Linked DNA regions of Homo sapiens. The protein of the gene in region 1 purifies or fractionates together with the protein of each later gene. This does not show direct contact. Each region holds a gene or a part of one and is shown in the gene's direction. Other genes may lie near its edges.

The links.
Region 2: the proteins of ARHGAP31 (region 1) and TIMM23 purify together in Homo sapiens (affinity purification with mass spectrometry; one large-scale study listed by BioGRID and IntAct). This does not show direct contact.

What each region holds. Positions count from the first base shown.
Region 1 is NC_000003.12:119,292,882-119,296,632, forward strand, and holds the start of ARHGAP31 (rho GTPase-activating protein 31), read left to right. Parts: upstream 1-1,501; 5' UTR 1,502-2,023; coding exon 2,024-2,123; intron 2,124-3,751. UniProt on the Homo sapiens protein: Functions as a GTPase-activating protein (GAP) for RAC1 and CDC42. Required for cell spreading, polarized lamellipodia formation and cell migration.
Region 2 is NC_000010.11:45,999,927-46,003,577, forward strand, and holds part of TIMM23 (mitochondrial import inner membrane translocase subunit Tim23), read left to right. Parts: intron 1-2,434; exon of another isoform or gene 2,435-2,558; intron 2,559-3,276; coding exon 3,277-3,392; 3' UTR 3,393-3,651. UniProt on the Homo sapiens protein: Essential component of the TIM23 complex, a complex that mediates the translocation of transit peptide-containing proteins across the mitochondrial inner membrane.

The sequences.
Region 1 (3,751 bases):
GCTTCTCAGTGTCACTGAGAGATGGAAAATGAAAAACAGGAAAGACAATTCATAGAGGTTGGGCTGCAAACTCAAGTGGCAGCAGAGGCCAGGCAGGTGCAAAAGGGGGAAGACAGGCCGTGGGGTCTGCAAAACTGCAAGAGTCGTCTCTCTAAAGAGGGTGCCTCCAAGGGGCCTGCCACAACTCAGCATCAGCCGTCCTTGCCATATGGGAATGCACTTGTGGTGTAACTAGATCTTCCATTTTTTCAAGAGAAGCCAGAAATTCAGATTTTATGTGAAATCTCTTAACTTTTTAATGCTAGCTACTAATTTTAAAACGTGTTAAAGCATGGTGTCTGCCAGCCAAGTACATCTATGGGCCAGATCTGGCAGGGTGGCTATCAAGTTGTGACCTCTGACATAGAGAAAATGTCAAGGGTCAAAGTTCATAGACTGTTAAGGTTACATAGAGAGACAGTGACTGTAAAGGGATTCAGTACCTAAAATGCTACGGATGCAGCTTTGCCAGCAATCTGAGCTGTATGACATATGCCCCTATCCTTCAAGCCTGTATATGGATTTGAATTTATACAGGAAGTTTCATCTAATCCTCAAATGGTTAAATCACAAGAATTTGAGTGCTTTCTGTGTGCTGAGTACACAGAAGTTAAAGAATTTAAAATCTAACTGGAGAAGAAAAAAACATGCCCTCTTGAAACAACTTGAAACAAATTATGAAAGAACCTGGGAGACTGCTTTCTTCACATTTCATGTGTCAGAGGCATCTTAAATCCTGGTTTGTCCCCCCCAAATCACTTCCATTTAGAAAACTTTGCAGTAGTGTGTGTGTGTGTCTTGAATATGTAACCAGAAATCTGATTTCCTGGGCAGTGGTTACAAAGCTGCAGCCTCTCTTTGCCCAGGGGTATCTTTACCCCAGAGTGGGAGGGGAGTGAGCTGAGGTGGGGGTGCACGAACGCTGCAGAGGAGGTTGGGATGGGAGTGGCCGGCGTGAAGCCACTGCCTGTCAGGTTTCTCCGCTGGAGTCCCCTGTTTGTCTCTGTCATTACTCTTTAAGTATTTGCGTAGCAGACAGGCGGGCACCGAAATAGAAAGTGTCAAAGATACGATGACAATGAGGATAAAACCAGGGCAGAGGGTTCTGAAAGTCCCAACCAGCACGGTCCCCGCAGAATGCCAGCGCACCTCCTCCCGCCACTTCAAAGAGCCGGCTCGGCGGGGCAGGAAGCGGCGGCTGCGGCTGCGGGTCCTGCGAGAAGAGCGCGATTTCCTCCGGGGCTGCCCAGTTATCTCTGGAGTCGCAGAACTGCTCTCGGGAGAACGCGTTCTCTACCCCAACCCCGTGCTCCTCAACCCACCCACCTACTTCCTCTAGCTCCACACACTCACAAGCACCGAGCTGCCAAAAATTTCCACCCACCGCCCCCCTCCCTAGCTAACTTCCTTCCAGCATTTCCTGAGCTGGATGATCCTAGGATTTGTAAGACAGGAAAAAAAGGAAGGCGTGAGGGCGGGCAGCAGCGACAGGATGCTTGTTTTTCGCTCTACCAAAGTCGTCTGAAGGCGAGACAGCGGGCCCAGGGCGCAGGACCCACCGCAGCCCCCTGGGCAGTCTCCTCGCCCCGCGTCCGCGTCGTCTCCGGGGCACTTAGTAAGGGGTGGGGAGAGCTTGCCCTCCCTCTTAAGCTGAGGAGAAACACCCGAAGACACCGCAGGAGCCTGTGAAAGTCCCTAGGACTCCAAGTGAGGAAGTGACACTCCCAGGCGAGCCGGCCCGCGGCTGCCAGTCTGCACGGCCTCGGCACGGCGGCCCCGGAGCGGCGCGGGGTGGATCTCAGGCTCTGCCGGCCCGCGGCCCGCGGGGTCCATGCGCAGGGCCCCCAGCCCAAGTTCTTCCATCTTCCGATGCGGCCCCCCAGAGCCGCGGGGCAGCCGGTGATCTAGCCCGGGAGCCCATCTTACAGCGGTGCCAAGCAGAGGGGCGGCAGAGACGGAGGGGCAGCCTCTTTGGGACTAACTCATGAAGAACAAGGGTGCTAAGCAGAAGCTGAAACGAAAGGGAGCCGCCAGCGCGTTTGGCTGTGACCTGACGGAGTATCTGGAAAGCTCGGGACAGGATGGTAATGTGCCTTGGCCTTTCTCCCCCGCCCCCACCTTCTTTTTGTTTGAGGGAGAGACGGACTCTCTCGAGTTGTGATAGAGTCGGTTCACAAGTTAATGTATTCCAGGCCTGTGCGCTCATTGCACTTTTTTTTCTTTTTTTTTTTTAAAGAACATAAACGATTCTTAAGGTGCACAGCGCTGCTGTCCCGACGCGCAGAGGCTGCTGTGTCAGTCCTTCCGTTTGCCTCACACAAGCTGTTAATGGGTGGTACTGCCGCAAGTTTACCGGGCCACCTCAGGGGATGGGGGTGGAAGCTGCAGAGGTCCCAATCCTAAACTTGGCACGTTGGAAGGGAGGGAGGAGGGGTGGACATGTGGGATGGTGATCAGTGGTCTTGCCTGGGTACAAAATCATGACCGCCTTAGCTGTCCCTCCTGGGCTCTCCAATTTCGTCTGCTCACATCTTTTTTTATTAATGTGTTAGAAGGCAGTTGCGGGTGGGGGGTGGGGGAGGATCCTGGCTGGGGGAGTGGTTGCACAAACATTTCTGAATTTCTGAGCTGATGCCAAATATATAGTACCTCCACCCCCTTTCCACAACCCCCTCCCCGCCCTGCAAGACCTTTTCCCTCCTCTTGGCTTTCAGATTAACATTTGGTGTGTCAGACAAGAAGAGTGTTGTAAAAAGGTCAGAGGGCCTCCATTTTTAAATAGTTTAGGGTAAGTAGAGAAAAGGAAAACTTCTCTGTTTTCAAGGTCAGATGGGGGTAGGGGGGAGTTGGGGATGGGGGAATCCAGCGGAGACAATTTAAACATTTGTTGGGGAAGGGGGAAAGAAAACACCATCTAGATTACAATAACAGCGTTTGAGCTTAGAAGTGTTTAATCATAGGAAAGTTGGAAAATTGAGCATTAAATGACTCCTTTTGTAAGGTTGACTGGTTTTGCACTTACCCTTGACAAAAAGGCCTTGTCTTCAGAAGCTTCAGCGAGAGGAAAATAGCCTACTATATAGGCCATGTGTTTATACATAGATAGATACAACAAAGGGGAAAACTAAGGGCTGTGTAACCGTGCGGAATAATTCTGCCTCCAGGAAAATAATCTCAAAACCTATTTGATTAGTCCATATCGAATATGCATTTCAAAAACAGTGCAATGCTTTTGTTTCACTTCTGTGTTTTGGGAGACTCAGCACCACCTAGTAATTTGCAGTGGTGTGATATTCCTGTGGTATTCTAGAGTTCAGTCTGCTGTGTCATTAGGACAAATAGCTTAGGATTTTAGAGCTTGGAGAACCACAGGTTTCAAAACTGACTCTTTTGAAATTGATGCATAACTTAACACTTCATTGAATCCTCACCAACCATCTGGAGAGGTAGATTTGAGATAAAAATCACTTGGTTTGAGTTTTTTTGAGTGTGAGAAAACTCCAAGTATGCCTCTTAACCACTATCGTCAGAAGTTTACAATGAAAGGTTCCTCTTCACCTATTTTTGCAGGGGCCTTCAAGTTAACCTCCAGGTACACTAGGAATGCTCCTGGGATGCCACCTTTCACCATGCGGGTGTTATTCTGGCCCCTCCCTCAAATCTGTGAGAGTTGCATAGGGGTGCTTGCCAGCCCTGTTCGTTCTTACAAACT
Region 2 (3,651 bases), on another chromosome or scaffold:
TTCAGCGATATTTCTCCCATTTGCTTTTGAAGGAAGAACAGTATGGCTCTGTTCCACCTGGCTCACTGGCGGTCAAAGTTTAAGGTTATCTCTCTTATTCCCTGAACATTGCTGGTACCCTGTTCTTTTTTCAAGGTGCCCAGATTTCATATTTGTTCAAACACACATGCTCTACAATTTGTGCGGTTAACGCAATTATCACATGGTCCTGAGACGACATACATCTTCCTCAGCTGACAGGATTAAGAGATTAAGGTAAAGACAGCGGCATAGGAAATCACAAGGGTATTGATTGGGGAAGTGATAAGTGTCCATGAAATCTTCACAATTTATGTTTAGAGATTGCAGTAAAGACAGGCATAAGAAATTATAAAAGTATTTGGGGAACTAATAAATGTCCATGAAATCTTCACAATCCATGTTCTTCTGCCATGGCTTCAGCCGGTCCCTCCGTTTGGGGTCCCTGACTTCCCGCAACAGATGGGGTCTCACCATGTTGCCCACGCTGGTCTTGAACTCCTGGGCTCAAGCAGTCCGCCCACCTTGGCCTTCCAAAGTGCTGGGATTACAAGTGTGAGCCACCACGTCCAGCCCCCAAGTATCTTAAAGCCTTATAGATTCCACTGTCACTATGTTACCCCTAGTGCATATGCCAAAGAGGATTCCCAGGGAAGCTTGTTATTTGATGGCTGAGAACTAATGTGAGAATCCTTCCACAAGGGCCAAGTAGATACCATGTTCTTAGAATGCACAAAGCAAAGAACCAGCTAGAAGCAGTGGTTTTGCAGCTCTTTCCAAAGCCCATGGACTGACTTCACAGTCCTGTGGATTATTGACTTATAGGTTCAGGGGAGTTAATCTGAAGTTGAATGTGTGGTTATAGGAAATAGTGTCTGCAAAAGTATTGTGTTTTCAATTACCGGCCCACCAGCATTTTTCCACTGACAAACAGCAGTGAGGGCACCTTGGCTATTGCTTGGTCTTACATTCAGAATGGGGTTTTGAGTTACTACATTTTGGCTACCTGCTTGGAAGAATCCTTATTACACTCAAAATTAGATCTAATAACTGAGCGATAGCAATGCTGTTGCAGATACCTTTAGCATTTATTCTCCTGTGCCTCATGGCTTATTTTTTCCACATTAGGAATTTGGTCTAGTTCACTTTCAGCTCTGCAGCTTTTTACTGATTTACTAGGCAGAGACATGAGGTCGATCCTTATTAAACTGAACAGATTATTTTGAGTATACACTATTTTCCAATTAGTACAATTTTTCAACCACATTGAATACAGTTGGAAGTTTAATTGCTGTGCCTACAGTCTGAATATGGCAAGTTCACAAAGAGATGATGTGAACTTCAAGGAGATACCTCATGTTATACTTTTAGTGGGGTTTTTTTGGGTTTCTTAAAAATGTTTTTGGTCCCCCTACATGACAGCTGTTTATAGATAATGTCTGCAGTTTCTGTTTGAGAGAGATAATTATGACACTTAGCATTGGAAAACTAAGAAGAACGTAAGCAGGTCAGCTATCAGAAGTCTTCAGACTGGAGAGATTCCTGGAGGGGGAGTGGCCCTTTAATCCATCAGCTGAAGCCATCTGGTAGGACGCTCGTTGCAGAAATGGTTAGTTCTGAAATGTTGTAACTCAGCAACATCACTGAATGTCACAGAATTGACAGGCACGGAGCTAAAAGGGCCTCTAGCCACCCCCACAACTCCGCTCTACCTCTGTCTCCCTAACACATGACTTGGAACAAATACACTCTAGGTACAAAGATGGCTACCTGAAGTTTATGATCCCTACTCATGGAGCTGCTTGAGGACTTCACATTTTTTAAAAAGCTGCTTTGGGCACCCCCATTCCTGAGGAGTTTTGTAGCTTGGTTTCTCTTTGCCACATTACGTTTGTAAGACTAACATTTTATAACCATAAGCAGTTAGGCCTTTTTATTTTGAGAAATTTATCTGTAGCTTCCTTTTATTTACACTTGGGGACTATTTTTAAGTAACCGATTGAAATATTTTTGTTTCTCCATTGCAAGTGAAATCCTTGTTGCTAATCTTTTGCCACATGTAAAATTGTTCACTTGTTATCAAGCAGGTAGTTCAATATCTGTAATTCTTGAGTTCTTTTCAACTAGCATGATGCTAGGTGTCACTCACTGTTTTTTAATTGTGGGAGATTGATGCGTCAGTGCATGAAGTGGGGGGTGGTCACCAGCATCTAACTCAAAGTGTGATTATAGCTATCTTACCACATTTTTTTTTTCTTTCTCACTCTGTCACCCAGGCTGGAGTGCAGTGGTGTAATCTCAGCTCACTGCAGCCTCGACCTCCTGGGCTCAAGCGATCCTCCTACCTCAGCCTCCCAAATAGCTGGGACCACAGGCGCATGCCACCCCACTAAGCTAATTTTTCTATTTTTTGCAGAGACAGGGTTTTGCCGTGTTGCCTAGGTTGTTCTCAAACTCCTGAGCTCAAGCCTGCCTCAGCCTCCCAAAGTGCTGGGATTACATGTGTGAGCCACCATGCCTGGCCGTCACTAATCTTCAAGGTTAATATTTGGAGGACCCATCCAGAGTCCAAAGGTTGTTAATACTCTTTCCAAATAGGGTGTCACCTTGTTTACATTACAGACTTAAATCCATTGACAGTGCTAGTGGAGTTCTAAATCATATTACTAGCAGGAAACGACTGTTCTAGTTGGAACTCCGTAATAAACTGCCATAGGAACAAATTGGAAAGTAGGGGGAAAAAAATTATGAATATGAAAATGTTAAGTCATATGTATTACACAAGTGGTATTACTTTAAAAACGTTGTCTCCTTTTTGAGATGGAATATTGATTTATTTTTAAAATGGTCTCTCCATTTCATAGTATTTTTTTTTTTTTTTTTTTTTTTTGACGGAGTCTCACTTGTCTCATCCTGTCGCCCAGGCTGGAATGCAGTGGTATGATCTCAGCTCACTGCAACCTCAGCCTCCTGGGTTCAAGTGATTATCCTGCCTCAGCCTCCAAGTAGCTGGGACTATAAGCACACATCACCACACCCAGCCAATTTTTTTGAATTTTTAATAGGGTTTCACTATGTTGGCCAGGCTGGTTGAACTCCTATCCTCAAGCGATCCACCCACCTCGGCCTCCCGAAGTGCTGGGATTACCTGAGCCACCGTGCCCAGCCCATTTCACAGTACTTTTTATTTAACCCTATCGTGCTAGGGCACTATGCAATATACAGCTATTTCATTTTCCTTTTGTCTCTGTTTCCCAGGTGGTCTTCGAGGGATAGCACGAGGTGGTCTGACAGGACTAACACTTACCAGCCTCTATGCACTATATAATAACTGGGAGCACATGAAAGGCTCCTTGCTCCAACAGTCACTCTGAAGATTTTGCCAACTCATGAATGGAGGACACTTCAGTAGTCATCTAGATCCTTTTATAAGACAGTTTGGAGTTATTCTCTCTCTTCTACCTACAATTAGTTTGAAAAATTGGAGATTTTGATTTGCTGTGATGAAAATCCTGGATGGCTGACCAAGACTGGCACTTGTTCCAGCCATTAGTGAGTTGAAGCCAAAGCCCTTTGGTGACTCACTGAGTACCATGGTTCTGTTCTCCTCTGGAGATCTTGCACGTATCTGTT